Regions from separate parts of the Homo sapiens genome. Here regions 1, 3, 4, 5 and 6 are each reported to be linked to region 2. The links are microRNA targets in miRTarBase. Many come from high-throughput screens and were not tested one by one. Region 2 holds a microRNA gene; each other region holds the end of a gene's coding sequence. Distances are from middle to middle.
Evidence for each region. Region 2 holds the annotated microRNA hsa-miR-218-5p (UUGUGCUUGAUCUAACCAUGU, at 1,945-1,965, shown strand). A microRNA usually pairs through its seed, bases 2 to 8, with sites in the 3' UTR of a target mRNA and lowers its output. Matches are read on the target gene's strand: a 7mer-m8 pairs with bases 2 to 8, a 7mer-A1 pairs with bases 2 to 7 and ends in A, and an 8mer does both.

Region 1 (5,076 bases), 86 Mb from region 2:
TCTTTTGAACTTCAAGTTATTTTGACTTTAACATGCAAGAGGATTTAATTTTTGTCCTTTACTTTCTCCCTAAGAAATTTTCAATGGAAGAAGATTTATATTCAAAGGTGGGGCATCTCTGCATTGTTAGAATTTTATTAATGAAATGCTTTCACATATTTTATTATCATATACTCAATGCATCATTTAGTCTCACTGCAAAATCCCTAATAGACTGTGTTAGATGACATGATGGATATAATTTGGGGCAGTTAAAAGAATAGAGAATTATTTTCTAGTCCTGGATATAGAGTGGTCTTGAAGTTTATTTAATTAATGTATTATTTTCATACATTTTGCTAGCTCCTGGGGACAACAGCTAAATTTCCCACCACACCACATCCTGAGAGGATCCATAAAGAAGAAATGGATGTCATTAGGAAAAAAGACTTCATCAGGCACTTCCCCTAGGAGGTAGCAGGTCAGATTTTGGCTAAAACTCATATCTTCACCATAGACAAATGGTATGCACAATGGGTTAAAAATATCTGGGGAAGGATATGAGGAGGGCTTCTTCTTTCTCAATCTTTAAAGTGAGTTCGATGTGGCATGGAATGATCATCTTTGTCTCACTCCACCCCTCACTCACTCCTTTCATGTAGTACAAATTGTCCAGCTTTGGAAAATTTTGGATGAGATTTTTGAATGAGAAATGCATAGTTCAGCCCACTTTCCACCCACTTCATCTTCGGTGTTAACTGCCAGAAGGAGGCCTGTCATTCTGTTCTGCCCATCCATATTATAAATTTTACAGGGCAGCTCCCATAAGATGGAACTGATATAGTCTGGTGTTGAATGTGAATGGGCACAGAATCTATTTCTGGTGTTTAGTGTTAGAATGTCTTCTTGCTCACAGGTATATGCTACATTTTTCAATATCAGCTTCACCAGCAATAGAGTAATCTTTCATTTGCCCATTTTTTAAAAAAATCTGTTTTTCAACTGGCCTGATTTTGAGTGAAGACAATTATAATTGAACGTTTTTCCCTAAAATCCTAAGGCTACAATTACATTTACAAAAGTGTAACTGAATGTTTTCCCCTAAAATACTAAGGCTACTTAAGGGTATTTTATTTCTTAACTAAAAAAAAAAAAATGTCAGGACAATTTGTCACTTCTCAGAGCATCTCACTGAGCACAATAGAAAAGAAAAAGATCGCCTATATGATTGTTATAGTCAAAAGCACACTTTAACTAGAAAATATAAATATTCTCAATTTGAGGAAATGGCCAATGATTTAAGAATATCCTTAAATGACTAATTAACATATGGTGGAAAGTATTTCAGCAATGCTTAAGGTATTTTTAACTCTAACTTCTAGCTGTGGGACTGTTTTAGCTTCATGAAGCAGCCATAGCTACATTTAATTCATTCACTATGTCACAGAATGTTTATTATCCACATATGCAGCCCATTCTGATGTCTAATAAAACATGGGCTCTTGTAGCATCCCTGCTCATACTTGGTGAACACTATTCCTCAAAACACTCCTGACATCTCTGGTTCAGGAAGCAGAGGAAAGACTTGCTTCCCAGGAAGTGGATTTGATTTCACTCAGTTTCTCTCCAAACACAGAAAAAGGTATCGTGTAGCTCACGTTCATTGGTTCATGTAGAAATGAACCAATACTCTAAGCATAATAGTATTTCCATTTTGGAAAACTTTAGCCTAGAGAGAAGATTATGGGGTATATGTTACCTGTCTTAAAGTATTTTGAAGAATTTGTGAAGAGCATATTCTCGTTCCAAGTTGTTCTGGAAGGCAAAATATGACTAAATGGGTGTAAATCACAAGCTGGAATATTTTGGTTTGGAAAAAAAAAAAAAAACAGAAACAACTTTCTAACAATTACAGCTAAACTGCCAAGAAATAAACTACCTTTTGTAATAGTAAACTGCTCTGAGTTATCTCATGCTGATGTCCTCCAAATGATTCACACCCAGTCCTCAAAATCAGACCAAGTCCAGTTGAACTCTCAGAAAGTATGATTCTATGAAAATTCTTCCCGTAGACAAAAGACAAGGAGCTTTGAATTCAGTTTTTAGAGGAGAAAAATTTAATAGATTTTATCTTATTATACATTTTTCCTAAATTACAAAGTCAATAGCTGCAAATATATTCTGCTACAAAGCTTTCTGTAAGAAATATCTCTATAAGAAAATACATCTCATTAACATTTCCTGTAAATAAATTACTTCAAATAATAATTTTTAAAAGGGTGGACATAAGAAAAATATTGCAGAAACCAAATTGTAAATATAATAATTGTTATATAGGAAATGTTTGATTGAAATGTTCCATTTTCATTTCACCAAGCTTATAGCAACCTGTTTATACAAACTTTGGTTCTTGGATGGACTAGTTTATAATTTTTGTTTTTGCAGACCTGTGCAGAAAATGTAAGTCTTAATCATCTTAGTAAATATATGTGGGAAGTTGAAATTTTTAATAGATATACAGGCTCAAACTCAATCTCTACTGGGAGAACTTAAATTTGAGACTGCAGATGGGATTTAAGTAAAAGAAAACTAAAAAGTGAATTGTGGTCTACAAAAGTTTAAAGTCACGACTATAAGATAACCTTTTATTGTTTTGTGCTCCAGACAAAGTATTTAGAACTGAGTTAAGTTTAAAAAAAGTAGTAAAGTGGTTTCAAAGAATTTAGAAACTGTGGTGTCTATAGATTAGCAATATGCAGGTTTTACAAGTTATCCTACTTATATTTTTTAACCGCAATGGCTGCAGAAAACCGAAACTAGCCCTTTGGCAATAAAGCAGATGCTGCAGAGGTTTGGGAAGAAAATTGGATGATGCCATTGGCTAGTCAGAAGCTTATAGAGGGCAATGAAACCTCACTACTCTGTCTACTTCAGGAGTCCATTTTGTGAAACCTCCTGAAATTGAGATTATTTGAGGATCTCAGCACTATAAAATAAATAATTTGAGGATAGTACGGACACAGGACCTCACACTGAATTCATCTGCATAGTAAATATTATGATAGCAAATCCCATGCAGATATTCATTTAGACTGTGCATCCCCTGGTTTCAAAGATGAACAGCCAACTTGTGCCTCAGACATATGATCTATGTGTTGCCAAAACCTGAACAAACGAAAAAGTTTTCCCAATTTTCTTGCTTACTCCAGTGCAGTACAGATCCAGCTCAAGTCTCTATTACCACAGAGTATGTATGAATACATGTATTTACCAATCTAATTCTATCAAAATACAGGTTATGGCCAATCTTTAAGAAATAATGATCTCTCTGTTAGCTCTTTTCCCACATATATTGGACATCTTTAAATTTTTTTGCCATCTGTGAAAATTCTGCTCTGTGTAAGTATTTTACTAGTCACAATTTATGGGTATAGTTTGGAAAATATAATGCATTCAGAGCAGGAATCACATAGGATAAAGAGAGATATACTGTCATTCCGTAGAATCTGAAGGAACTGTTTTTGTCTTGTATCAGTTCTTATTAATTACAGGTAAAACTAAAATTTTGAAAAAAAAGTATTTGTGGCTGTTTGTTTGTTATTTATTTGTCTTCCTAAAGGCCTTCCTAAACAACTGGCCATTATTTTGCAATTATTTGGAAATATTGACTGATTTTTTTCTTATCTACCAAGACTCTTGATTGAACAGCAGAAGTAGTGTTACAAATCAAAAGGTAATTTTCTGTTGTAAATTAACAATGCTCCATGTTTTCATTTCTTGTTTAGCAATTTTATTTTTAGAACCTATTGTATAACAAGTTATTCTAGGAGTATTTTGTTAAACTCTAACGTTGAATAGAAATCTGGCATGTAGGTTATTTGTATAAGCAATCAGCAATCTGAAGGAAACCTCTCCTCCAGCACAACCTAAACTCTTGGAAAGTCACATGCTACTCATCAGTAATTTCCACTGTGTGCTTGTTCTCTTAATAATAGCATTTTCCACAAATGTGTACATTATTTACATAGACAAGTTGCATAATGGAAACACTGGCTGCACTGCATTTGTCACCCATTCTAATCTATTCAGTTCATGTTTTCTTTCTCCCTTTTTGTGATCATCTATATTCTTATCACGTTTCTTATTTTAGCCATTCTTCTGCATCTGAACCTTATTTTCCACCATGCTATAATGCATTAAATACACAACTTCACAGTCTGCAATTGATGATGTTCCTCAATGGTGATCAAATTTTCTGACACACATGGAGTCTGGCTTTGGAGGAGTAGGTGGCATCTTTCCATACTTTGCAAGACAGGCCCTTCGCACAGTCGCAACGCTGGAAAATTTCCAGCCCATGAGAACCCTTCTTGCGTTGTTTGGTACAGACTTCCCCCTGATGGAGCACTGGTTTGCAGATTTTGGTCCAGAAATGACGAGCACAGCAAAACCCTTCAATGCAGTCTGATGATCGTAGGCAGGGGTCTCCTTCATGCCCTGCAGAGATGATGACCAATAGATGTTACCCTGACACTTCAGAAAAAAAAAATTCTATTTTGCAATCAGAAGCACATAAAATATTTTTACTTATACTATCTTCTATGTTGTTACCATTTATAATGAAAAGTCTTGGTTGATACCAATTGGCTCTGCCTCTTATCACATAAATCTATTATGGTCTGTTTCCATTATTTGCCACCTAAATAACAAGTTTAATGACTAGCTAGGATTAAAGAAACTTCCTTGTAATTTTTTCTAAAACCAATGGAATTAATTATCTATATTTTTCTTCTATTTCTTTATTTTAAAAAAACCCCAGAACTACAGATATCCCTACCTTTTATATGTGACATCTTAGTGTGTGGTCTTCCTAGATTCTGCCATCCCAAGTCATGGTTTGAGTAATGACCGTGGTTTCGATCTCTGTGCCGAGTACCATCCAGAGCCGGGATGTGAGGGGTTAAGATGCTTTCAGTAACTGGGATACAGATGCCTGGAGATGATCATATAATCAGTTAGACTAATTCAATTCTATGAAATGTGATACTTATCCACATACTCTCTTGATGTGAAATATGAAGCCATTTATCTATCTGT
Region 2 (5,076 bases):
AGTTGATTGGCCTTCATTGACAATGTTTAATATTAATTACTTTACCCAATTAAGTGGAAAGTAATCTGATAGCTATTATTTAACCAGAAAAAGCCATATTCTAAACACCAGACTACCTATAGAATAAAACATTAATATGATTTAAATCCTAAAATTATGGCAGTAATGTAATTGGTATCAAATTATTCAAACTATTTCATTTAAATATACTTAATTAATAATTGGTAAGTTTAATATTTCCAATTCACTAAATAAAGAACAAAAGTCAGGTTGTTTTCATATATTCTGATATAGTTTTTCCCTGTTACTGACAGCAGCCAAAATAGGATTTGGAAATTATCTTTTATATCAAATATCATGTCTTAAGTTTCAATTTATGATAATTTAATTTACATTCTTTAAACATGATAATTGTAGAAGCCAGGACTCAAAAGGATCATTTGGGCTTCCTCCCCTTTTTTCCAAAAATTTTAATTAAAATTTGAGTCCACCTAACAAGCCACCATAAAATAAGCATTATTACTGTTCCGTTGAATGCAGATTATTTGAATTGCAAGATATCCAGTGTACCTGTCACTTAGACTTTGTGCACTCTTATTTCATTTTGGAGTGAAGCATAAATCATAAGACACCAGATCCTCAGTAAATATCATGGCATTAACTGCCAAATGTAATGAAACGATTATATTTACCATCGCAAACTTCTTATGAGATTCTGATTCCATTTCCACTAAGACACATTATTTATAAGTTGAAAAGTTCATTAAAAAGTGTACATCACAACATAAGGATTAATCCAAATGTTGTAATGATTGTCCTTGAGGATCTCCATGATTAGTTTTTCATTCACTTTTACGTGTGTACCTCGCTACTACCATTTTATATGGCACTCTACATATTACAGTGATAAAAGAAAATCTGTCTTGCAGAGAGTTCATCTTTTTTTTTTTGGAGATGGAGTCTCGCTGTCTCCCAGGCTGGAGTGCAGTGGCATGATCTCGGCTCACTGCAAGTTCCGCCTCCCGAGTTCATGCCATTCTCCTGCCTCAGCCTCACCGAGTAGCTGGGACTACAGGCGCCCGCAACCATGCCCAGCTAATTTTTTGTATTTTTACTGGAGATGGGTTTTCACCCGTCAGGTGAAATGGTCTTGACTTCCTGACCTTGTGATCCGCCCGCCTTGGCCTCCCGAAGTGCTAGTATTACAGGCGTGAGCCACCACACCCGGCCTTGAGAGTTCATCTTTTAAAGGAATCAAGAACTTAATTTGCACTATGCATCTTTTATTACATTGGTTTTCTTGTGAGACCACCGTGCTTCAAAATATTATTTATAAAATTTTACAAAGCATGACAATTCCCATCACATCATGCTATTTTTTCAATAATTCCCATAATAAAGAAAGAAGGAAGAGAGCTTAGTTTTATAAATATGTATATTAATCTTAATTGGGATTACTCTTTCTTTCCTTCTTGGTGATCTTTACTTTTGCAGGAATTCACCATTTTGGCTGTAAGTAAAAGTGTCTGATCTGAAACATAATACCCTCCCTTTTCAATCCTGATGTACCTTCTTCTAGTCTTGGTCTTTGGCACCTTTTTTTCAAGAAGAAACCACAGATCTTTTGAGCTTCTCTGTTGTCCTTGTAGCTCACCTTCAACTTCTTCCTGGATGTTGTTCCCGAAAGCTGTTGTTTCCATTCTGCAGTTCTGAGGAATGGTGGAGGCACCTTTTCCATATAGCCCCTTCTTTGTGTTTCCAGGAAATCATCGGTAGTAATACTCTTACTGTGGTCATAAACATTCTGCGGGAAGAATGCATGTCATGTAAACAGTATTACGTTTCCAGAACGTCTGTAGCTTTTCTCCTCCTTCCCTCCATTTTCCTCTTGGTCTTACCTTTGGCCTAGTGGTTGGTGTAGTGATAATGTAGCGAGATTTTCTGTTGTGCTTGATCTAACCATGTGGTTGCGAGGTATGAGTAAAACATGGTTCCGTCAAGCACCATGGAACGTCACGCAGCTTTCTACAGCATGACAAGCTGCTGAGGCTTAAATCAGGATTTTCCTGTCTCTTTCTACAAAATCAAAATGAAAAAAGAGGGCTTTTTAGGCATCTCCGAGATTATGTGAGAGGGAGAGAATAGTAAAAAGTCCATAGAAAATTTAAAAGCCTGAGTATATCTATTTGCCTTGAAAGCCCTAATTTACAATGAGATATAGGATCATGTTTATTACTGGATATATTTTCAATTCTTGACTCCGAGAAAAAAAATAAACTTTTTAATAATTAATATCCATTGTGTGACTAGCTGTGAAGTAGGCTAGAATGACTCAGAATTGGATCAGCAGAAAGTACAGCTGTGAAAAGCTCAACTTTATTAATGTTTTCCTGTCATGTGAATCTGGTCACTCTTTTTTCCAGAAAATTCCAAGCCTTTCTTTTAACCTTTCTCCTGACATCCATTGACCAAAATACCCCAAGTTGTCTCCCTGCTACATAATCTATAGTTATCTTACTTTTTTCTTCCTACAAACTAATAAATTTTCTAACCTTTAGACTCAGTATCTTTTTTTTGGTTTGAATTCTCAATAGGTACAGAAGATTATCGATCAAAATTAAGTGGAGACTGCTTTGCGGATCTGGCTTGCCCTGAAAAGTGTCGCTGTGAAGGAACCACAGTAGATTGCTCTAATCAAAAGCTCAACAAAATCCCGGAGCACATTCCCCAGTACACTGCAGAGTTGTAAGTTCATCCCCCAACAAAATTCTGGTTGGGATGGAGGGAATGAAAGCATTAAAGCATAAGAATGTTTGTCTTGCCATTTTTATTATTAATAATTGCATTAATTTTAATTAATATGCATTACATTGGCATAACTCTATTTTGTACAAGAATATATTAGAGGCTACCTTCATTCATCTTTCTAGCCAACCATACGATTAAGTACAGAAACTAATTTATCTCTCAAAATTCAGTAAGCACTTCATACTAATAACAATGGTATTTATTTGATGCTTATTTATTGGGTATTATTTATTCCCAATTTGTTTTCTAAGTACTTAGTTTTTAACGTATTTAATTCTTATAGCAACTAAATAAAGTAGTTTGAGAGCCTCCATTTTCAATCTCTGTAAACTATCAATAGATTCAAGGAGTCTGTCTTACCTAATTTACTACTTCATTGACTTACGGGCAGAAGGATTCAGTGGTTATCAAGTATTAAAGTAGAAAGGATAGCTTTTTCTGAACAATGCAAGAAAAGCTGAAAAGGCAGAATATGATGGTATTTACACTTAACAGCCTTAACATAGGACCTTGCACATACTAAGTGCTAAGGTGTTTGTTGGAGCACTTACAGATTCTATGCCCATGCATGGTTTGCCTTTACTGACTTTATTTATAAGAAGAGGACCTTTAATGTTAGTGTTCTAACAATTCAGGGAAAAAACTAGCAAAACCTCATCATTCTCTAAACATCTTAGCCATGTTTATATATAGCACCATCTGGTATTTGTCATTTACTGCTTTGCAAAGTTCGTTGTCTGTTTGTTTGTATATAATCCTTCCATCTTTAACTAGATTATAGCTCCTTGATGACAGGGATTGTGTGTTATTGTTTATCTCTCACTGTGCCTATACTCATGCCTGTACTTAATTAATTTTTAGCAATTTGAATAACTAAAAATAAAGTAATGCCTTTCAAAGAGTTGACAGAAACCCACTATCTTGTAGTTATAGTGATTTTTTTTTTTTTACTCCTATTAGTTGATGAAGCTATTTCACAGCTCCAGGAATTTTAGAAATGCATGGAGTCCATGCAACCAAGGCCCTGAACTTTATTTTTTATAGACATATAGGGATTTATGCTTATTACCTATAATACTACAAACAAGTGATACCTTCCAGCACAATAGTACTTTTTTTTTTTTTGAGACAGAGTCTCACTATCTCACCCAGGCAGGAGTGCAGTGGCACAATCACAGCTCCCTGTAGCCTTGGCCTCCTGGGCGCAAGGGATCCTCCCACCTCAGTCCCCCACCCCCATCTCCCCAAGAAGCTGGGACCTCAGGCATGCACCACCACACCCAGCTAATTTTGTACTTTTTGTAGAGATGGGATTTTGCCCTGTTGTCCAGGCTGGTCTTGAACTCCTGAGCTCAAGCAATCCTCCTGCCTCTGCCTCTCAAAGTGCCAGGGTTACAGGCATGAGACACTGCCCCTGGCCTAGCACTTTAAATAAGTTTGTTTGTCATGGAGGAATTATAGTGGAAACTAGCCTCCAATTTAGACTTCAGCAAATGTGTGTAATGTAAGAGATTTATAATTTTTTTAATTATATAATAAAATCAGTACTGAGAATAAAATATTTGCAAGTCATGTATCTAATAAGGCACATAATTCAGAATATATACAGAACTCTTATAATTTAGATTAAAAGGTATTTTACTCAGCTAATGAATGGTTAAATTATTCATATTGACCTTTCTCCAAAGAACATATACAAATGTCCAATAAACACATGAAAAACTGCTCAATATCATTAGTTATTAGGGACATTCCAATCAAAACCACAATGAGATACCATTTTAGACCCACTGGAATGGCTAAAAAAAAAAAACAAAAACAAAAAGGGAGAGTAACATAGTGGAAGAAATTGAAACCCTCATACATTGCTGGTCTGAATGTAAAGCTTCTATGGAAATCTTTTTTGCTATTTCTCAAAGAGTTAATCACGATTTACCATGTGATCCAGCAATGCCCCTCCTATGTATATGTCCAAAAAACGACAACATATATCCAGGCAGAAACGTGCACACCATGTTCATAGCAGCATTATTTATAGCCATCAAAGAATGGAAGCAACACAAATGCCTCCTAACTGATAAATGGATAAACAAATGTGTCATGCCTGTGTAATGAAATATCATTCAGTCTTAAAAAATAATGAAGCACTGCCATATGCTACAACAGGAATAAGACATTACACAAAGCAAAAGAAGCCAGACAGAAAAGGCTACATCTTACATGATTCCGTTTATGCAAAATGCCCAGACTAGGAAAATTAGTAAAAGC
Region 3 (5,068 bases), not on the chromosome of region 2:
CGTTTACTACCGGGGCACTAGGGGACCAGGATTGGTCTCTGGGCTGGGCAGTCAGACTGAAGCTGCACTTGAGAACCGGGGTGCTGAATTCTGAAGGCAAGCAGGGCTCAGGGCCCCCAAGCTGGGATGGGGGATGCTCCCCAGGAAGAAGGCAGAGTGTGTCTGGGCTCGGGAGGAGTCACCCCACACCTGGGTGTTGGCTCACGACACCAGCCAACACAATGATGTGTTCCTCTCTACCAGGTATAACTACATAGAGGGAACCAAGATGCTGGCCGCGTACCTGTATGAGGTCTCCCAGCTGAAGGACTAGGCCAAGCCCTCTGTGTGCCATCTCCAATGAGAAGGAATCCTGCCCTCACCTCACCCTTTTCCAACTTGCCCAGGGAAGTGGAGGTTCCCTCTTTCCTTTCCCTCTTGTCAGGTCATCCATGACTTTAGAGAACAGACACAAGTGTATCCAGCTGTCCACGGGTGGAGCTACCCGTTGGGCTTATGAGTGACCTGGAGTGACAGCTGAGTCACCCTGGGTAAGTTCTCAGAGTGGTCAGGATGGCTTGACCTGCAGAAGATACCCAAGGTCCAAAAGCACAAGGTCTGCGGAAAGTTCTGGTTGTCGGCCGGGCACCACGGCTCACACCTATAATCGAGCACTTTGGGAGGCCAAGACAGGAGGATCACTTGAGGCCAGGAGTCTGAGACAAGCCTAGGCAACAAAACAAGACTCTGTCTCTACAAAAAGTTTAAGAAATGAGCCAGACATGGTGGTGTATGCCTGTAGTCCCAGCCACTCAGAAGGCTGAGGCAGGAGGATCGCTTGAGACCAAGAGTTTGAGCCTGCGGTGAGCTGTGAATGCACCACGGCACTCAAGCCTGGGCAATGTAGCAAGATCCTGTCTCTACAAGAAATTTTTTAAAAATGAGCCAAGTGTGGTGGTGCATGCCTGTAGTTCCAGCTACTCAGGACACTGACGTAGGAGGGTTGCTTGAGACTGAGAGTTGGAGGCTGCGATGAGCCATGAATGCCCCACTGCACTCCAGCCTGGGCGACAGAACGAGACCCCATCTCAAAAAAAATAAGTTCTGGTTGTCATTGAATTGGGATAAACAGAGAGCTTGATGCTTTCTGCCTTCTGTCTCAGGTGATGCATTGCACATTTGGGATATTTGGAAAGGAAATGAGGAAAGAAATTAGGGCCTCCTCTGATCTCTCGCTATCTGCGGGTCCTGTCCTTTTCTCAAGACCTTCACCATTACTGGCATTTTCCTGTCTTCTCTTTAGTATGATCCCTCAAAACCTCACTAACTGGAAGGATGATTTTGTCTCAGTTTGTACTCCTAAATAAAAAGTAAACATGACACCTCTAAAAGAATCGCTCCATCTCAGTTGCTCGTCGCGTGCACACCATGCTTATTGAGTGGTGTCTGGTTGGTGGTGTCAGCTCAGGGCAGGGGACAGCAGGCAGGACCCGGAAAACAGAACCCAGGTCTTCCCAGGCGAGCACTCCCTCCCTCGTCCACACAAGTGGAGGCTCACTCGTGGCCCCCTGCATGTTCCGAGAAGTGTCCCTGTCTCTGCTCCTTAACGGCTGTGGGGCCACAGGAAGTCCAGCTGGCTTAAACAAAGAATTGATTGGCCCACTTGACATAAAAGAACAGAGTAAACTCAATGAAAGGAAAAGGCTCCTTGAAGTGGTTGGTTCCAGGGCTGGGCAGGGAAGATGCAAGATGAGTCTGGACCCTCTCACATCGGAACGTAAGGATGCGCTCCTGAGGGCGTGGGGCTGCGTCCAAGGACACAGGAGCCAGCCTGGAAGAGTTTGCAGGGGCCCAGGGGAGCAATTGGAGTGAGAAAATAGCAGTAGTGTTGGATTTTTACCATGGAATAAACAACAATCCATGAGTCCATACTAATATAAATAAAGTGACAAAGTGGGTGAGAAGGACCAGTGCCCCTGGATGAAGAATCTCTGCTCATGTGGGAGGAAGGTGGGAGATCAAAGCTGGAGCACTTGCTGCTGCAGGTGAGACCCCTGACACACTCTCAAATTGGTAGGCAAAGGTTTAAAGAACGGGATATTTGCTTAGCTTAAAAGCACCTCCCAAGGGGAAAACAGTAACTTCACAGTGGAGAGACCTGGCAGGCACCACCCTCAGATCAAAATGAACCTCAGCAGTAATGACACGTCCACATCAGCACCCCCAACACCACTCCCTGAGGAGGACATGCCAGTTCTGGGAACATCACACTCATCGTGACAAAACATCAGACAAACCCAAACGGATGAAATGTGAGGAAAATCTGTAGTTGGTTTTACGTGGATGTTAATCTCTTAGTTTTGATCATTGTGCTGTAGCTGCATAAGAGGTTAGCTGGGTGAAGTGTATCTGGGGACCCTCTATGGCTTTTGCATCTTTTCTCTAAGTCTCCTGTCATTTCAAAGTAAAAACAAAAAAAGAAGACAAGGGTAGCGGCTTCAGGTACAGCTGGACCCAGCACTCAGTGCTATCTGGGCTTGTGGCTCCAACTCAACTCCTCCATCAGAACTGTGAGAAATGCATTCTTTCAGCTTCTAATCCTGCAAAAAGAACTGCATGGTCTTCCCCCAGAAATCCTAAGAGTAGCTGCTGGTGTCTCATGCATGCGAGCTGCATATGGGCCCCCGTTAGTCAGGAACCCATGCTGAGAGGTGCTATGCTTTGAATGTTTGGCTCCTCCCAAACTCGTGTTGAAACTTAATAGCCATTGTAACAGTATTAAGAGGCAGGGCCTTCAAGAGCTGGTCAGGCCATGAGGGCCCTGTCCTCCTGACTGAGTGAATGCTGTTATTGTAGGAGTGGGCTTGTTTGGCCTCCTCTTGCTCTCTCTACCCCTCTCTGAGCCCTTGTGTTGTGGGATGACACAGCCAGAAGGCCCTTGCCAGGTTCCGGTCCCTCCACCTTGGACCTCCCAGCCTCCCGAACGTTGAGCCAATACATCTCTGCTCATTGTAAATTACCTAGTCTTGGGCATTGTGTTACAGCAGCAAAAAGCAGCCTACGGCAGTCACCGTGCTAACACCTGCAGCAGCCTGCGGCGGTCACCGTGCTAACACGTGCAGCAGCCTGTGTGGCTCAGGCCAGTCAGCTTCCCCTGGAAGCAAGTGTGAGGTCGTCGCCTCTGGAAGTGCTAGCGGAGGGTGATCTCCCGGAGGAAATCAGAGTGGTGTTCTACTAGAAGGCCGATGACTCCTGGGTAAAGTGCCAATGCTCACCTCCATCTCTGCAAGCTCAGTCCCTCGTGGAATTTCCAGGAGCACAAGGGCAATCTCGACAGCTCCACGTTCCCAGTGCCCGACCCAAGCCTGGCCCATGATCAGATAAATGCCTAAGTGGGGTGGCATGGACATTTGCACACGTCCAGACTGCTTTATGTTAGAAGCTGAGCTGGCATGCCACTAGCTGGTTTTGATGTAAACAACAATTTTGTAAAACCCTGGACTGAATGGGTCTGACTAACGGCTGGTTCTGTGAACTTGAGCCTCAGCGTCCTGTGTCAGAAGAGCACAAACCACTTTCCCAGAGAGGTTATGAAGACAGAAATGACCCTGTGACCCCTTTGCAAAGTATGAAGAACGGTTCCCACTCATGCATGGAGCTGGATCTTCTCAAGTGGGAAACAGGCGTGGTAAATAAATACTGTTGTTTCAGCTGGTGTAATATGGGACCAGTTTTTTTTAAAGCAAGTCTAAAGTTTTTTTCAGACTACTACAATATGGTACATGATAGGAATATTGAAATTTATTAAAAACAAAAGACTTTCTCTGAATGTCACTTCTAATTTTTATTCAAAAAGCAGATATATCTTAGGTCCTTTAGAGAAAGGTGTTTCATACATCAAGAGGCATTGAAAACTGCAGTCACTTGGCCCTTTAAACATTATATTATCAAACTCTTTTATTTACTGAAAAGACAACATCCTTTGAAAAGTGTCCATGAATCCAACGGTGGTCTGGAGATTCACATACAAATTATTTGAATATTTCTAGAAGGGCAACAATAGATTTATGTCCACACTATCTACTGGCCTAACAGTTGCAAGAAATTGTATTAAATGGAAAAATGTGAGAAAGTAAATATCTGCTGCCTGACATTGAAGAGGAAAATTGCTACTGTGTCACCCAAGTAAGGAGCTGCCAATTTTATGGATCATTTCCCTTTGAAAAATGATTGACAGTACCTTTAGGGGGAGTTAGAGTTCTTCCCAAAGGATTCGTTCATTACTATTTATAGAATTCATGTTACAAAGGGCTTTAAAGATGTTTGTCTAATGTTTCATTGCATCCCGGTGAAATAGGAGGTTTTTTCCCTGTGCTATAGAGGGGACAGGCCTGAGAGACCTTGTGATGGCCTGCCATCACTCAGCTCCTGGGAGGCAGCCTTGGGACCCAGGCCTTCCCCTCTTCCCCTCCCCTCGCTGGGGGACACTCATGCCCTCCCCTCCATGGCAGGAGGCCAGTTGTTCCTGGTGTGCACTTGGCCTCCCGCCTTTCCCACTGAGGTCTCAGCATTTCTCCTTTCGGTTTCCCCCATGGTGATTTATTGTTGACAGCTTTGGTAAGTTACAATTCATAGACCAAACAATCCGCCTGTTTAGTGTGAACAATTCAGTGGCTTCTCGTATAGTCACAGAGTTGCACAACCATCACCAGTTGATTTCAGGACATTTTCATTGCCTCCAAAAGAAACCCAGTACCTGTAACCTATCACCTCCCCCACACAATCACCCTATCTCCCTCAGGCCCAAGCATCCACTAATCTACTTTCTGTCTCTACTGACTTTCTTTTCTCTTTTTTTTTTTTTTTGAGATGGAGTCTGGCTCTGTCACCCAGGCTGGCATGCAATGGTGCGATTTCGGCTCACTGCTGCAACTTCTGCCTTCCGGGTTCAAACGATTATCCTGCGTCAGCCTTCTGAGTAGCTGGGATTATAGGCGCACGCCACCACGCCCGGCTAATTTTTGTGTTTTTTAGTAGAGATGGGGTTTCACCATGTTGGTCACACTGGTCTCGAACTCCCAACCTCAGG
Region 4 (5,076 bases), not on the chromosome of region 2:
ATTTTTTTAATTAGCTGGGTGTGGTGGCACATGCCTGTAGTCCCAGCCACTTGGGAGGCTAAAGCAGGAGATCACTTGAACCCAGGAGTTCAAGGCTGCAGTGAGCCATGATCATACACCACCACACTCCAGACTGCATGACAGAGTGAGGCCCTGTCTCAAAAAAAAAAAATAGAGGCTGGGGGTGGATCTTGGGTACCTACAGTATCACTTCTTGGGATAAAGCAGGAGGCCCTGTTCTGAAGGAACTTACCGTTTGGCCTGATGGTAAGAACCAAATAGTCAGTTATCTGTGGACTATGAGAATAAAGAGATAGATGTATGTGAAAGAGCTTTGTAAGCTAAGATGCTTCACCCATGTTAGTCCGGTTAGGTGGGTTTAGGCTCAGAGGGACCTGTAGCTGTCCTTATCTTACGTAACAGGGGCCAGATCTGAGGCACAGGAAGTGGGGGTGGCAGGGACCGGGACAGCCCCTGCTGGGCTGGAGCCCTTTCATAGTTGCCATGTGGGAATGTAGGCCCTGTGTGGCTGGACCATGCCTTCAAAGTCTGATTGAGTTTAAATGATGGCAACCAATTCAAGATGCTTTTAAATAGAACATGGACCGAACAGAACATGGTTGTGGGCCAGATTAGGCTGGTGGGTCATCAGTTGGTGACTTCCTGGCATACAGGTTGTACAGCTTTTTTCCAAACAGCACTTCTTTCCCCTCTGTAGGACCTGGGTGCAGCCGCAGGCTCCAAGCGCCCCACCTGTGTGATAATGGTCAAGCCCCATGAGGAGTACCAGGAGGCTTACGATGAGTGCCTGGAGGAGGTGCAGTCCCTGCCCCTACCCCTATGAGGGGCTCCGGTAGCACCTGGGCACCTGCCGCTGGAAGCTATTGGGCTGGCAGCAGGACGACTGGCTGTCCTCCTGCCCACCCACACTGACGGCATCTTCCCAGTTCCCCAAGGCACGCCTTCTTCCCAGGCAGCTCTAACAGCCCTTTCATGAAGGTAATGCTAGTCTTCTGTCCATCAGTGCCATTTCCTGTAGAACTAAAGGCTGTTCCAAGAATGTGGGGTGGGGAAAGTAAATGCTAAGACTAAAATGTGGTGAGTCTGTGGGTGTTTTCTTAAGCAGCAGCTGCTGGTTGGGCCAGCGAGTTGGTGGGCGGGAAGAGTGAAGCAGTCTTCCTCAGCAGAGAGCCCAAAGGACTCAGAGGGTTCTGTGCTGATGCTCAGCTGCCCAGGGCCGGGTGCTTTGGCTCAAGCTGAGAACTGATCCTGCTGCTATCCCAGCATTTTCAACTCCCTCTTCCAGGGTAGATGGGGGCTGTGAGGTAAGGCAGGGGGCCCAGACCCACTTCATGGAAGCCTAAAGCCCCCACATCAGGAACACCCCCATTCCTAACTTAACCCAGGAGCCTTAAATGCCACTGTGAAGCTTATGGAAGCAATTTACCCACCCACACAGCACATTTTAAATAGGAATATGAAGCTAAAATGCATTCCCCCGAGCTCTCTTGCTTAACATAATGGCCCTAGTAACCCAATCCCTTCAAGTATTTTAGACTTGGGGCCCCTTCCTGCTGTCAGAGGCCCTGCACAGGACTCAGTATACATAACAGCCAAGTTCAGGCACCCTGGAATAAACTGGAAATAGCTTGGGCTTGAGGGTCAGATCTGGTTAAAACTCCAAGCTCTCTCCTTTCTAAGCTGTGAGCCCTGTTGTGCAAGTTACTTCATTTTCCTGAATCCCATTACACGGATTTCTCCTATGGAGTTAGTAAGATCTGGTATGGGTATATGTAAAAGCACCTTGCCCGGGGTCTGACATCTAAGCTCCCCGCAGTCAGGGATGCAAGTTGTGTTCTTCCTGCCTGGACACTGGATACCTGCTGGCCATGTTTTTGTTTGCGGCAGCCACCAGGCCGTGCCCAGTCCCTGTGTGTGGTAGACATGTGGTCATAATTTGTCAGTGAGGCTAAAGGTTGGCCAGGAGAAATGAGAAGGGCAGTAAATACATTTGTTCAAAGTTATAAAACAACGGCATTCCGTTCTAACTGGGACTATTTACAGTGGGAGATGGTACATACTGTTGAGGCTGTAGTGGGAGGAAGAGGTGGGCCACCGCTGGACACTCTTGGGCCGAGGGGCAAGGGTGGACATAGCATTGGCATGGCAGCAAGAGACTTGGCTGAGGGCAGGGGTGGAAGGATGTCTACTGCTGAAGACCAAATCCCTTGCCACTCTGTCGGTTGCTACTAAGTCAAACGCAAACAGAAACAGGAAAAGACAGCAGGAGCACAGAGGCCAGCATCTCCCTTTCCTTATGCCATGGAGCCAGGTGCCAGGCGTGGGCTGGTCCATCTCCCTCCTCAGCCTCTGCCAAAGGGCTGCTCCAGTGCTCCCCTCAGTGGAACTCCTCAGCCAGGCGCTCTGAAACCAACCACAGTCCACTGAAGTTGACCACCCTACCGAGACAGACCAAGGCTCACAGGTGAAAACCCCTTTCAACAAAATTCCTTCCAGGTAGGAATCAGAATATGATGCGTTTCCCATCTGCCGGGTTCTGCTCCATGGGACAGTAGGGACACTTCAGCCTGCAAAGGGAGGAGAACCGAGAACGTCTCAGGGGTGGCCAGTAGGAGAGCCAAGCCAAGGTGGAGTAGAGCACGGGGAACTTACTTTCCTCCATTAATGAGCTTATTGAGTGCATCTCGGGAGATAACATGGCCACAGATGAGCTTGATGGGAGGGTTGGAATCTGACGTCTGCTGGCGGAGGATGGGGCAAGCGAACACGGAGTGGTACCAGCACTTCATGCCTAGTTCAATCTCAATCTGGGAAGGGCAGCGAAGCGGGTGAGTTCCACTTCCTGTCATGGCTGTCCTCCCCAGTACCTCTTGCCCACGATTCCCCAGACCAGGCCTCACCGGTAACTCGTCCTTGTGATTCCAGACCCCAGTGCACTGCCGCTGCTCAATCACAGCCTTGATGTTCATCAACACAGGCAGCGCCACACAGCCAGAGGCAAAGCTGCAGACAAGGAACAGGGGCTAGAGTGGCTCAGATCACAGCAGACAGGCAAAAAGGGCCAGCGCGCCATGCTTCAGCATGGACCTTGAGACAGGGCTCTAAAATGGTGCACGGTCAAATCGGTCCTCAAAGATCCCTCACATTGTTCATAAGATGTCACATATGTACTTATGTATGTCTGACTCTACAGACTCATTCTAATGCACCCCAAAATTTGAGAACCTACAGGGAAGACTTCCTATAGCTCTAGGGGCAGATATCTGCTCATCCTAATGACTGAAAAGTCCTTGGTGTGACTAGGGAACAGTGAGCAGTTCCAAAGGGCCCCAGCCTGCCTGTAGGACGTACCCTGCTGTGTAGTCATAACACATCTTTATAATGGTGGCTATCAACTAGGCCGCCTAACAAATGGAGGTTGGGGTTCCCTTCTCGTGACAGTTGCATGGGGAAGGGAGCCTACTGGCTGGAACCTCAGGTGCTGAATACCCCACAGTGCACAGGGTAGTCCTGCGCAACAGAATCATCCTAAGGTGCTGATGTTGTTCTTGCTGGGAAATGACGTTCTATAAACTGAGTCCATGGTAACAAATCAGATGAGCGTAGAATCAGTCCACTATATTGAGGTGCTGTACTCAGACACCATCAACAGTCTAAATACACAGTGACAGCTGTCCACTGTGGCGGAGTGTGTGGCTCTGGGGTCAGGTTCAAGTGCCCATTATTCCCTGCGAGGCCTTGGGCAAGTGCGTGCACATCTTGGGCCTCCATTTCCTCATCTGTAGAAGGAGGATAACGTGGCTCTCCCTCCCAGGGTTGCTGGGAGCTCTGAGGGAGGTGTCAGCAGCAGTGCTGAATACATATTACTCAACCACTCACATCTCCCCTGAAGGCAAGTGGTGTTTAAGACATTAGGTCATGAGGAAGGCGGGCTGCAGAGGGGCGTGGGTTAGCTGGGAAGGTCTTGCAATGATCCAGGGTGAGGTGCAAGAGAGGCAGGGACCTCATTCAGGAGACCTTACAAAATGGGAACCTTGACCATGCCACTGACCTCATGGTGACCTCGGGCCATAACTCTTCCTAGTCTCAGTTTAACTGTAAAAACAGGTAATTCCTCTCCTGAAGAATGACTAAGAAAGCCAGTTTCGGTCTCTGAAAGCACCGAGCACTGTTCCTGGCACATGGCAGGGCCTTGGCAAATGATGATTACCTCTCTACCCTCCCACCTGTGCTGCCCTCACAGGGCTGGGTTGTACCTGACGCTAAGGGGGGACTCCACAGAAAGCCCCAGCAGGGAACAGGCGTCCCGGGTAAAGGTCTCACAGATCTCTGCCCAGTGGCTGCTGTCCAGCAGGTGGCAGTAGGGTGACTTCTCCAAGCCCAGCCGCAGGTACACCAGGCTGCCCATCATCACCTGGATCTCTACAAGGCAACCAGAGGGGGCAGCTCAGGGGGTGCAGGGCTCTGGGTCCACCCCCAAGCGGGCAGCAGGACTGTGCAGCACAGCACAATATGCTGAGCCCGGTGGCTCCCAAGCCCCTGAGGAGACTGAGCAGGGATGAAAATGCCCTCAGGCAAATTTGACTGTAAAATCCACTGGGGAGGTGGAGGTCCAGGCTGCTTCTGCAGGATGAGAACAGGCATTACTAACACAGAATCAGGAATGAGGACAGTTCTTTTCCAGTTCTCTTTCCTCCCCCACTGCATCAAGGATCAAATAAGTCCTCAGGTTGGCACTGGTGTCTCCACACTAATCTCCATTTAGAGCAACCCCAGGTTAAGAGCTTTCAACAGGCAGCAGTATCTAGCTAAAACTTCAGTCATGTTTTGGGGCCGGGCGTGGTGGCTCATGCCTATAATCCCAGCACTTTGGGAGGCCAAGGTGGGTGCATCACATGAGGCCAGGAGTTTGAGGCCAGCCTGGCCAACATGGTGAAACCCCGTCTCTAATAAAAAATATATAAAGTTAGCCAGACGTGGTTGTGGTGTCAGGCACTTGTTTTTTTTGGTGTGTGTGTTTTTTGTGTGTTTTTTTTTTTTTTTGAGACAGAGTCT
Region 5 (5,076 bases), not on the chromosome of region 2:
GTGCGCTAAAGGCATACTTGTTGACTTGGCAGGCTCACACTTTTAAAACAGCAAATGGAAGGTATAAACTGTCTGGGGTCCTATTTTTCTCTCACTGTTCATTTCTGATTTTTTGTGATAATTTCTTTCTTATCTACCACACAAAATGCTGAACCAGTCATCTTTTAGGTTCCTCAAGTGCTCTAAAAGTGTTTCCCAAGTTTGAACAGGCATCAGAATCACTTGGAGAACATGTTAAAACAAAGACTGCTGGGTCCCACGCCAGTTTCCCAATTCAGTAGGACTAGGGTGGGGCTGAGAATTTGCATTTTTAACAAAGTCCCAGGAGATTAAGATGCTGCCAATGCTGTCCGGCCATACTTTGAAAACCACTGCTCTGAAAGATTGCCCCTTTAAGATATTGATTAGCCATGTTTTTCCTTACATGAATGCTAGAATTTGTGGGAAATGAAATTATTAATACTGAGATTCCCAGAGAATACAAATACAGCAGCATGTTATCGGACTTGTTGGATCACAGACAGGTTAGGTGTCATTTGTTGGGTGTTCCATTACAAAAGTTTTTCAGCATGCTATGTATGGTTTTGTCTGATTTATGGCTCTGGACAGTGACATTCACCACATTCCCTTCGTCATTTACCTAAAATTTTAATTTATTGTTTCAACTATTAGGCAAACGTTTGTTCATACAGTTGGAAGAACTGCAGAATCTTGTCTATAAAATCAAAGATGGCACAACTCTATCTCTTTTGACTCCTGACATTTACTTAACTGCCGATTTTTAACTGTGGCAATGACCATTCCCTAGTATGTTAGCATCTACTAGTCCTCTAAACTGGGCGCAGTGGGGTAACTCGAGGGCATGATTTCTGTTGTGGAGGTGGTAACAGTCCCCACTGATTAAATATGCTGTAAATTAATACTGAAATGAACTTTAAGTGCTCTCAAAAACCACTTTATGCATGAGTAATTTATCTCAGGGGAATTGGAGATGCTAATAAAACAAATCCTTTATGAAGATAAAAGAAAAAATGAATTCCAAGGACATGCTCATCAAAGGACTCACCAATCACCTCTTAACTTCTCTGAAATATTACTTGCAAATTCACAGAACTGAAATATTACCAGTATTTGCATCCGAGTCACAAAATTCAAAGCAATCAAGCACTTTGCATTCCACTGCTGTGAAAAAGAAATTAAGAAATGGGGGGATGAAAATAATCCACTGCTTTTGATGTTTATTAGGTTTACAAAAACTGTACATTTTTTTTCCTTGAGAAAAAGCATTAACTTAGTACTGGTATCAAATAGACTAAACATTCAATAACAGGAAAATATTCTGATTTTTATTTTTGCACGTTATTCTCAAGTACACAATTACAATAATGTCACACATCCCTATATGATTTTCTTTTTATGTATTTTACTTTCTTTACAAAGTGTACAGAGGGAGGGACATACAATATTTAATAGGATATTTCTACAGAACAATAACTTATATTATGTCCTTGTAAAAATCTGTACCTCTTTAAAACATTTAACTGAAACATCCATTTTTTTTTAGCTTTGCTAATCAAAATTGTTTTAAGAATTAAAACTAGGTTGTAACTAATGTCAGTACATAACAGTGACTACAATTTCATTTTCTCTTTATACAGACAAGTATGTTTTATCATATTCACTTGACCAAACCCTTAAATACCTTTTAAAGGTTTTAATGTTGTGCTTTAAAAAGAACTGTGTATGATTCCGGAGTATGTAAGAGAAATATAAAATGTGTGAAGTGTTGTGTTCTTTATCTTTCAGTTTATTTAAAAAAATATAGTTAAATGACCCAATCATTTATATTTTCTGTATTAATTTTATAGGATTTAAAATTAATACATTTCCACTTTCATTTAAGTGTTTTTACATTATTTCTGGGAAAATAAAAATTAAGGGAGATTTTAAAGGTTCTCACAAAAAAACAGACAGAGCTTTCAAGAATCGCAGGGCAATGAATCACGGATCACAAAATTGTAAGTTAGTTTAAAAAAAAAAAAAAAAAAAAAACACATTATGGGGGCCAAGAAGGTACAGGAATTTCCTATAAGATAGGCTAGGAAAACCCATGCCTTGACTTTGACTGGCATTTGGGCTGGAGTTCACACCTGCCTAAAGCACTTGGTTTAAAACTAGACTAAATCAGTCTAGCACTTCAGAGGTTTGCCAAACACCAAATATTTTGATTTCTAACCCTAAAAATATAACTCTTGAATACAAACATCAATGGCAAAGAGAAAGATGAAAGGTAAAAACCTAAGCACACAGGGGATGGAGCACCATAATGAGGTGACAAGGCAGCTATCGGGTGGGAAGACAATTTCTAAATCTCCTACAATGTGCTAGATGCATACGGACCAATAGCCAACTGAAGGGACCCCAAAAACTGTTTTCTGTTCTCCCAGATTCGTCTTAACATAACCAAGTTCTAATTAACCGAGTTTGTTTTATGAATGTATGACACTGATTCAGACCTATGTGGTGTCTGGGCACGGTGGCTCACGCCTGTAAACCCAGCACTATGGAAGGCCGAGGCAGGTGGATCACGAGGTCAGGGTTCAAGACCAGCCTGGCCAAGATGGTGAAACCCCATCTCTATTAAAAATACAAAAAATTAGCCGGGCGTGGTGGTGGGCGCCTGTAATCCCAGCTACTCGAGAGGCTGAGGCAGATAATTGCTTGAACCCAGGAAGCAGAGGTTGCAGTGAGCTGCAGAGGTTGCAGTGATCACACCACTGCAGTCCAGCCTGGGCAACAGAGCAAGACTCCGTCTTAAGAAAAAAAAACAACAAAAAAAAACAAACAAACAAAAAACCTGTGGAAGACTTAGTGATGTTCCAAATAAGGCCTCAGACTTTCCTTATCCACTTAAAACACATCTTTACCTTTTAATCAAAGCCAACTTGAGTGTTAAGTTTTTAAAGTTTGCTAACTGTAACTGAGAAATAACAGATCAGCCTGAACTTGCCGAGTGTGAAGTCATAATTAGCACCCGTTCTCTGGTCCACAGAGCCATCACTTCTTTTCCATCCCCCTCACTAGGTAAGACAGAGTTCCCTCTCAGGCTTCTCAAAGAGAACTGTGGGAGTCATGTCTGGATACTCATTTGCTTTTCAGAAAAACATAAAGACATGGAGGTGAAATTGTATGAAAACATTCTACCTAGAAACATCTTAACCTCTATGTTTCAATTACCAAAGATATTTAAAAGAAAATATCTTTACTCTTTAAAAATACTAGTGTCCTTATTTTCCTTCTAATTCTTCACCTGAGTAGTCTCTCTGAAGAGCATGACTTACAAAATGCTCTCTCATGCATCCCTGGATCTTTCATGTTATTGTAAATTTAATACTTTTCATTATAGATTTTAAACAACTACTACTTGGGGTTGTGTGTATAAATATGTAAAATAAGCAATACACACAGGTACATGATATATATGTGTATATATATAATTCAGGGTACATTTACATACATAAAGTTGCAAAAGATCCTATAAGCCATGAGTTACCTCTAGGAGATTCCAAAATGCAGTCCTCAGTAAGTGTCATTTGTAGCACACAACCATTCCAAGATGAAGCCGCACAGACAGAATAATCAAAATACAACATGAGCAAGCACAGTTTTTCAATAAGGTTTTCTAAAAGTTTGCTACGCTGACAAAAGATGTAAATAATCCAAAGAAAGCCAAAAGAAGTATATTTGAAAAGTAAACACGAACCCAGCCACTGCTCTTTACTCAGCAAAGCCAGGGACGCAACAGCTCAAATGGAAACTTTCACTGTCAAGTGGTCTGAAAATATTAAGCAAGACAAGTAAATGACTTCCATGTTATGATAATTAGACCTGACTGTAAAATCTCCCATTTATATTAGTAGATGTCTCTGACAATTTTATTGTGAGAAATGTATGGGGAAAAAAATGAGTCAACATGAATACTTTCAGAGTTACCAATATAAAGTTACCTTAAGTTAATGGTCTTAGAAGAGTACCATCAAGGTAAGCAAGGTAAATATTTAAATAAATATAAAATTCTAAGATATAAAACTTCGGTATAGAATCAGGGATTACTTTATTAAAAGTAACTAGCATGTTGCCAGTTTTCCCTATTTATTAAACAAACTGAATAGAATTCAGAACACACTACTGAGCAAAATGTATATTTAAAAAAAAGTCAACTAGAAGTAATAATTCTATTTGTACACAGCATAAATCAATATACAGTATTGTATGTGAATGAGACTGATTGGCTTTAAAATGAATTTTCTGCTTCAAGGCCAATATCTCTACAAACGTTCTGTAGAAGTATTGTTAGGGCAGGCCAACTTCTTTATGATGTCGCATTATGTGCTGGTTCTTTTCTGAAGGTCTTCGGAAGCCTTTCTTGCAGTACTCACACCGGTGAGGATAGTCTTTCGTGTGAATGGAAATAACGTGCCGTTTAAAGCCTGAGGCATCTGTAGTGCTATACTCACAGTACTCACACTGATACACTTTCCTGCCACTGTGTGTCTTCATATGCTTTTTAAGCTCACTCTGTTGCCTAAATCCCTTTCTACATCTCTTGCACCTAAATGGAAGATCCTTTGTGTGAACTGAGAGAATATGGCGACTTAGAACAAATGGATCTGCAATCTTAAAGTCACAATGTCTACACTGGTGCATTTTTTTGCCCTTGTGGGCAGCCACGTGTTTCTTGAGTTCTGAAGGCCTGTGAAAGCCTTTATCACACATGTCACACTTATGGGGGTAGTCTTTCGTGTGAACTGAAATTATGTGTCGTTTCAAATCACTTGAGTTCGAACTCTTGTGGTCGCAATGCAAACACTGGTGTGTTTTGCTTTCTTGGTGGATAAGAGCATGTTGCTGCACCTCTTTGGTATCCGAGAAAGTCAGAAGACAAATGTCACACTTGAATGGCATCTCTTTACTATGCTTAGTTTTGACATGCGTTTTCAAGTTAGAAGAGTCTGCAGACCTATATTCGCAGTACTGGCATTGGTACGGCTTCTCCCCAGTATGGATTCTCATGTG
Region 6 (5,076 bases), not on the chromosome of region 2:
ATGTGCCACCATGCCCAGCTAATTTTTTAGTTTTTGTAGAGATGGGGTCTCACTATGTTGCCCAGGCTGGTCTCAAACTCCTGGGCTCAAGCAATCCTCCCACCTCAGCCTTCCAAAATGCTGGGATTACAGGCATGAGCCATTGCACCTGGTTGGATGACAATTCTTTAGGTTTATCTGTGTTCTTATTTTAGGTTTGGAAAGATGGTATGACACTGTGATGTATAATAAGATATGCAGTATGTATAGATAGTCTTAGTCCCAGTATTCTGGCACACAGCTCCTAAAACCCTGGGAATCTCCAAAGTGATAAATGGTTTTTTGTATGCTAATGAAATGACAGTGATAAGTGGGTTTCTGCATGCCAGAAGCTCCTGGATAGCTTCAAGATAGGGGCTCCTTGCCCAGGAACTAACCACGTGATTAAAGAATTCCGGCTTTCAGCCCCAACACCAACCTTGAAGGAGAGGAAAGGCTGAAGGTTGAACTTATCACCAGTGACCAATAATTTAATCAATTCTGCCTACATAAGGAAGCCTCTATAAAATCCCAAAAGAAAGGCAGAGGCGGGTGGATCACTTGAGCCCAGGAGTTCAAGACAAGCCCGGGTAACATGATGAGACCCCGTCTCTACGAAAAATACAAAAATTGGCTGGGCGTCATGGCGCACACCTGTTAGTCCCAGTTACTCAGGAGGCGGAGAGGGGAGGATTGCGTGAGCCTGGGAGGCAGAGGTTTCAGTGAGCAGAGATCATGCCACTGCACTCCAGCCTGGGTGACAGAGTGAGAACCTGTCTCAAAAACAAAAACAAAGCCAAAGTCCAAAAGAAAAGGGTTTGGATAGCTTCCAAATTGCTGAACAGGTGGACATGCCTAGAAGGTGGGGCACCCAGAAACGGTGTGGAAGCTCTGGACTTCTGCTGGCCTTTCCATATGCATCTCTTCCATCTGGCTGTTCATCTGTATACTTTATTATATCCTTTATTAATAAACTGGAAAATATAAGTAAAGTGTTTCCCTGGGTTCAGTGATCTGCTCTAAGCAAATTAATCAAACCTGAAGAGGTAGGCATAGAGACCCCGATTTACAGTGGGTTGGTCAAAAGTACAGGTCACAACCTGAAGCTTGTGATTGGCATCGGAAGTGGGAGGCAGTCTTGGAGGATTGAACCATTAAACTGTGGGATCTGACGCTATCTCCAAGTAAATAGTGTTAGAATTGAATTAAATTATAGGACCCCCAGCTGATGTCTGCTGGAGAATTGCTTGGTGTGTGGGAAAAACCCCCATGCATCTGGTCACAGAAGCTTTCTGTGTTATACTGAGTGAATGTAAGAGTAAGAAGAGCACTTTGGGTGAGGTGCAGTGCCTCATGCCTGTAATCCCAGCAATTTGAGAGGCTGAGACGGGCAGATCACTTGAGGCCAGGAGTTCGAGAACAGCCTGGCCAACACGGCGAAACTCTGTCTCTATAAAGAAAGAAAACTAAGAAAAAATTTAAAAAGAAAAGCATTTTGATCTTTTCCCCCATCTCTATTAGATGGTGTGAATGTACCTGGTCTCCAAGCTTTTTGAATTGTGTCTATCAGCAATACAATTTTGAACTGAAATCCCTAACGTAAGAAATGTACACAAAACCACAGAAACTTAAAAGGACGAAATAAAATATATAAATAGATGTTCTAATATTCCCACACCCCTTGGAAGGTCATGTGTACCTGCTGTCCATGCACCCCATTTTGGAGGACACTAATGGAAGAGTAAAGGCAGTGTTGGTATCTGTAGTGTGAAGAGGCCCAGGACTGCTTCAGATGATCTCTACACCTGGAATCTGACCTGAAATAAGCTCTGATCTGAAATCAGATCTGAAATCTGTAATTAAGAATCTGACTTAATTTATGTTTGACTGCTGGTGGCTTTTAAGCCTTATCCCACCCCTCGTCCCCTTATGCCCTACACCTCTGGCAAGCTAAGAAAGCCTGGGTGCTCGCCAGACATGGTGGCCCATGCCTGTAATCCCAGCACTTTGGGAGGCCGAGGCAGGAAGATGACTTGAGCCCAGCCTGGGCAACATAGTGAGACACCATCTCTTTAAAAAAATAAAGCAAGCAAGCCTGGGTGTTTCCTTCTTTGATACCAGTGGGAAATTCAAACCACATGCAAGAAACATCACTCTGGCCCTACTCCCTAACCACCAAAAAACTCCAAGTCAGTCTCCTTCCCTGTTGTCAAATCCTGCTTAGGAGCTGCCCTGCTTTCCCCAGAAAGCTTCATTATGTGAGTAACAACCCTTTCATACTCTGTTGGTGTGTGTGTGGCTTCATCAGTCATTTTTTTTTTCTTTTTGAGACAGGGTCTCACTGTGTTGCCCAGGCTACAGTGCAATGAAACAATCATAGCTCACTGTAGCCTCCAACTTCTGGGCTCAAGTGATTCTCGTGCCTCAGCCTCCTGAGCAGCTGGGACAACAGGTGTGCACAACCATGCCCAGATAATTAAAAAATTTTTTTTCTTTTTTTGCAGAGATGGGGGTCTCTCTCTGTTGCCCAGGCTGGCCTTGAACTCCTGGCCTCAAGTGATCCTCCTGCCTTGGTCTCCCTAAGTACTAGGATTACAGGCGTGAGCCACTGAACTTGGCTATCAGTCTGGACATGTGAACCAAATTTTGAGTGTGGAATGCATCCTGTCTCAGTGCGGGATGGCCACAAAAAAATAGCATCCTCCTTTACAGTCCATCTACTCCTTTCTTTTCATAGCATTTAATACCACCTGACATATTATATATTTATTGTTTGTCTTCCCCACTAGACAGATCCCCAGCTTTAGTAAAGTGTTTGGTATAATCATCCGAGTGGCTACTTTGCTAGCAGTTAAAGGCACTAGTGCTACAGTCGTGAACAAGGCCCTTGCCCACATGAAGTGTACACTCCAGAGAGAAGGGTAGGTGTTCAATACATATTTGTTAAATGATAGACTATTAATATTATTTTGTCTGGAGGTAAGATATTACAAACATATCATAAATTAAATTTTTTATTCATTTTTTTGCATCAAAATAGTGCTTAAAATTGGAATTTATACTCACAAGACATAGCTAACATCCAAAGTAGACAATTAAAAAATATTATTTGAAAATTATGTACTTAGTACTGAAGACTTCCTAAATTTGCACATTAGCTAGATTGCCATTAGCACCATTAGAGAGTTGATCTTTGGCTAATGATTATTCAGGAAAATTTCAACCATTACAATCAGTGAGTATAATTTTATATTTCAGCAACGATAGTGGTCATGTTCAGCAACAGCTTCACTTACAAATTAAAGTAAGCTCACTTCAGTGTTGCACTCTGATGCTGTTTTTTTACCCCTTCTCTTGCAAATAACCAGTGAAATAAAAATTGCTTCTAACTGGCAATCGAAACAAGGGAGGAATTATGGCTAGCCAACTAGTTGCTAATGTTTGTGTTTTTTTTATTTAAGAAACATTTTAAATAATAGAGATGGGGTCTCACCATGGTGCCCAGGCTGGTTTAAACTCCTAGGCTCAGGCAATCCTCCCACTCGGCCTCCCAACATGCTGGGATCACAGGCTTCAGCCACCATGCCCGGACTGCTAATGTTTGTGAAAGGCAAATTGTAAACTTCTATGGTTTAACTTCACCAGAAGGGTAAAGGGCTCCCCACCTGCCACCTTGTTCTATAAAAAAAGTATACTCTGATTACTAGAATGGATTTTTAAAATTCAATTCAAAGATTCAATAACTATCAACATTTCTAAACACTGATTTTTCTTTTTCTCTTTTTCAAATGTTTTTTAATATCCTGCAGGTAATAACACTGATTTTTCTAATACTCAGAAACATCTACTTAGCAGTTGTGATACTAATTTGCAAAATGTAATAATGTTATACAAATATAAGATACTACTAAATACATAGTAGAAATAATTGCATGATTCCTGATATTTATATTCAAGGTATAAACATGACTGATTTCGCTGATACTACAGAATAAAAAAAATAAAGCTGCTATGTAAAAAATTAAAGAATATCTCAATTAGATATTTTTGTTCCCAATCTCTTTCAGACAGATCTATGAAATAATATAGAATATACTATCAATATGTTCTTTCATATGAAGTGAAAAAAATGGGATTTAAGTAGTGAGATAATTTCTATTTTTTACTTTTTTAAAAAAATAGACAGGGTCTTGCTATGTTGCCCAAGCTGGTCTCAAACTCCTGGGCTCCAGTGTGCTTCCTGCCTCAGCCTCCCAAAGTGCTGGGATTATAGGCATGAGCCATTGTGCCTGGCCTGTGGGATCATTTCTATTGGTTTTATATCAGTATTAATTAATAAGTCAATCAATTAATTAACCTTAATTATTTCTTTTTCTAAATAAGTATCAGCTGATTTAATCTCGCCCAATTGAATGCGTCTCTTTTGGTTGATCAATGCGATAGAGAAACTCTGCAGGTAAGAAGTATCCAAGATATTCCACTATATCTGGAGTAGTGTCATAATGGTAGTGTCCACCTTCTCCATGACGACTAAAAAAATGAGTGTGCTCCAGTCGCAAATCAAACCCCTAAGATAACAGACAAACAATATGTTAGTACTCAAATTATTGATTAGAGTTTAAGGGGGAGGGATAACTTTTTACGTTGCAATAGTTTTTATTTTTTAAATAGGTAATACATTCACATGTTCTAAATTCAAAGGGGGCAAAACGATGTATTCAGTAAAATGTATCTTCTTCTCTCTTGCCCTCACCACTCACTCCCCTTCCTAGCAGGTAACCAGTGTAAGCATTTTCTTGTATATCCTTCCATAAATACTTACTTTTATTTTTACTCAAATGTAGTATTTTGTACACACTTTTCTGCATGTAACTTTTTTTCATGTAACAATATAGTTTTGAGATCTTTGTATATGAAATCATAAAAGAGCTTCCTCATTCTTTTATACCTGCATGGTATTCTATTGCGTATGTAACTTCTCAACTGACACTTGCATTATTTCTAATTCTTTTGCTACTACAACAATACTGTAATAATAACCTTTTAACTAGTAATTTT

Region 1: the mRNA of DKK2 is a reported target of hsa-miR-218-5p. Seed matches in the 3' UTR shown: 7mer-m8 at 3,952-3,958 and 7mer-A1 at 2,633-2,639.
Region 3: the mRNA of CNDP2 is a reported target of hsa-miR-218-5p. Seed matches in the 3' UTR shown: 8mer at 587-594, 7mer-A1 at 3,295-3,301 and 7mer-A1 at 3,543-3,549.
Region 4: miRTarBase lists NHP2 as a target of hsa-miR-218-5p. The part of its 3' UTR that is shown has no 7-base or 8-base seed match.
Region 5: the mRNA of ZFX is a reported target of hsa-miR-218-5p. Seed matches in the 3' UTR shown: 8mer at 1,721-1,728.
Region 6: miRTarBase lists C11orf54 as a target of hsa-miR-218-5p. Seed matches in the 3' UTR shown: 7mer-m8 at 4,251-4,257.

Annotation. Positions count from the first base shown.
Region 1 is chr4:106,919,729-106,924,804 of GRCh38, forward strand. DKK2 (dickkopf Wnt signaling pathway inhibitor 2) reads right to left here. Exons shown (of 4, transcript NM_014421.3): 3 at 4,817-4,972; 4 at 2,074-4,476. The coding sequence ends at 4,226. Among named protein-coding and RNA genes, the nearest start is that of DKK2, 110 kb to the right of the region's middle.
Region 2 is chr4:20,526,355-20,531,430 of GRCh38, forward strand. It overlaps MIR218-1 (microRNA 218-1), which reads left to right and starts at 1,921; the gene lies at 1,921-2,030. SLIT2 (slit guidance ligand 2) reads left to right here. Exons shown (of 37, transcript NM_004787.4): 16 at 2,595-2,745.
Region 3 is chr18:74,519,756-74,524,823 of GRCh38, forward strand. CNDP2 (carnosine dipeptidase 2) reads left to right here. Exons shown (of 12, transcript NM_018235.3): 12 at 244-3,699. The coding sequence ends at 313. Among named protein-coding and RNA genes, the nearest start is that of CNDP1, 12 kb to the right of the region's middle.
Region 4 is chr5:178,145,481-178,150,556 of GRCh38, reverse strand. It overlaps NHP2 (NHP2 ribonucleoprotein), which reads left to right. Exons shown (of 4, transcript NM_017838.4): 4 at 719-1,094. The coding sequence ends at 844. RMND5B (required for meiotic nuclear division 5 homolog B) reads right to left here. Exons shown (of 11, transcript NM_022762.5): 8 at 4,278-4,443; 9 at 2,922-3,024; 10 at 2,674-2,828; 11 at 1-2,588. The coding sequence ends at 2,525. Among named protein-coding and RNA genes, the nearest start is that of NHP2, 5.9 kb to the left of the region's middle. RefSeq lists enhancers at 3,841-3,890, 4,011-4,120, 4,215-4,509.
Region 5 is chrX:24,210,654-24,215,729 of GRCh38, reverse strand. It overlaps ZFX (zinc finger protein X-linked), which reads right to left. Exons shown (of 10, transcript NM_003410.4): 10 at 1-5,076. The coding sequence ends at 4,354. Among named protein-coding and RNA genes, the nearest start is that of ZFX, 63 kb to the right of the region's middle.
Region 6 is chr11:93,761,025-93,766,100 of GRCh38, reverse strand. It overlaps C11orf54 (chromosome 11 open reading frame 54), which reads right to left. Exons shown (of 9, transcript NM_001286069.2): 9 at 1,352-4,586. The coding sequence ends at 4,413. Among named protein-coding and RNA genes, the nearest start is that of MED17, 21 kb to the left of the region's middle.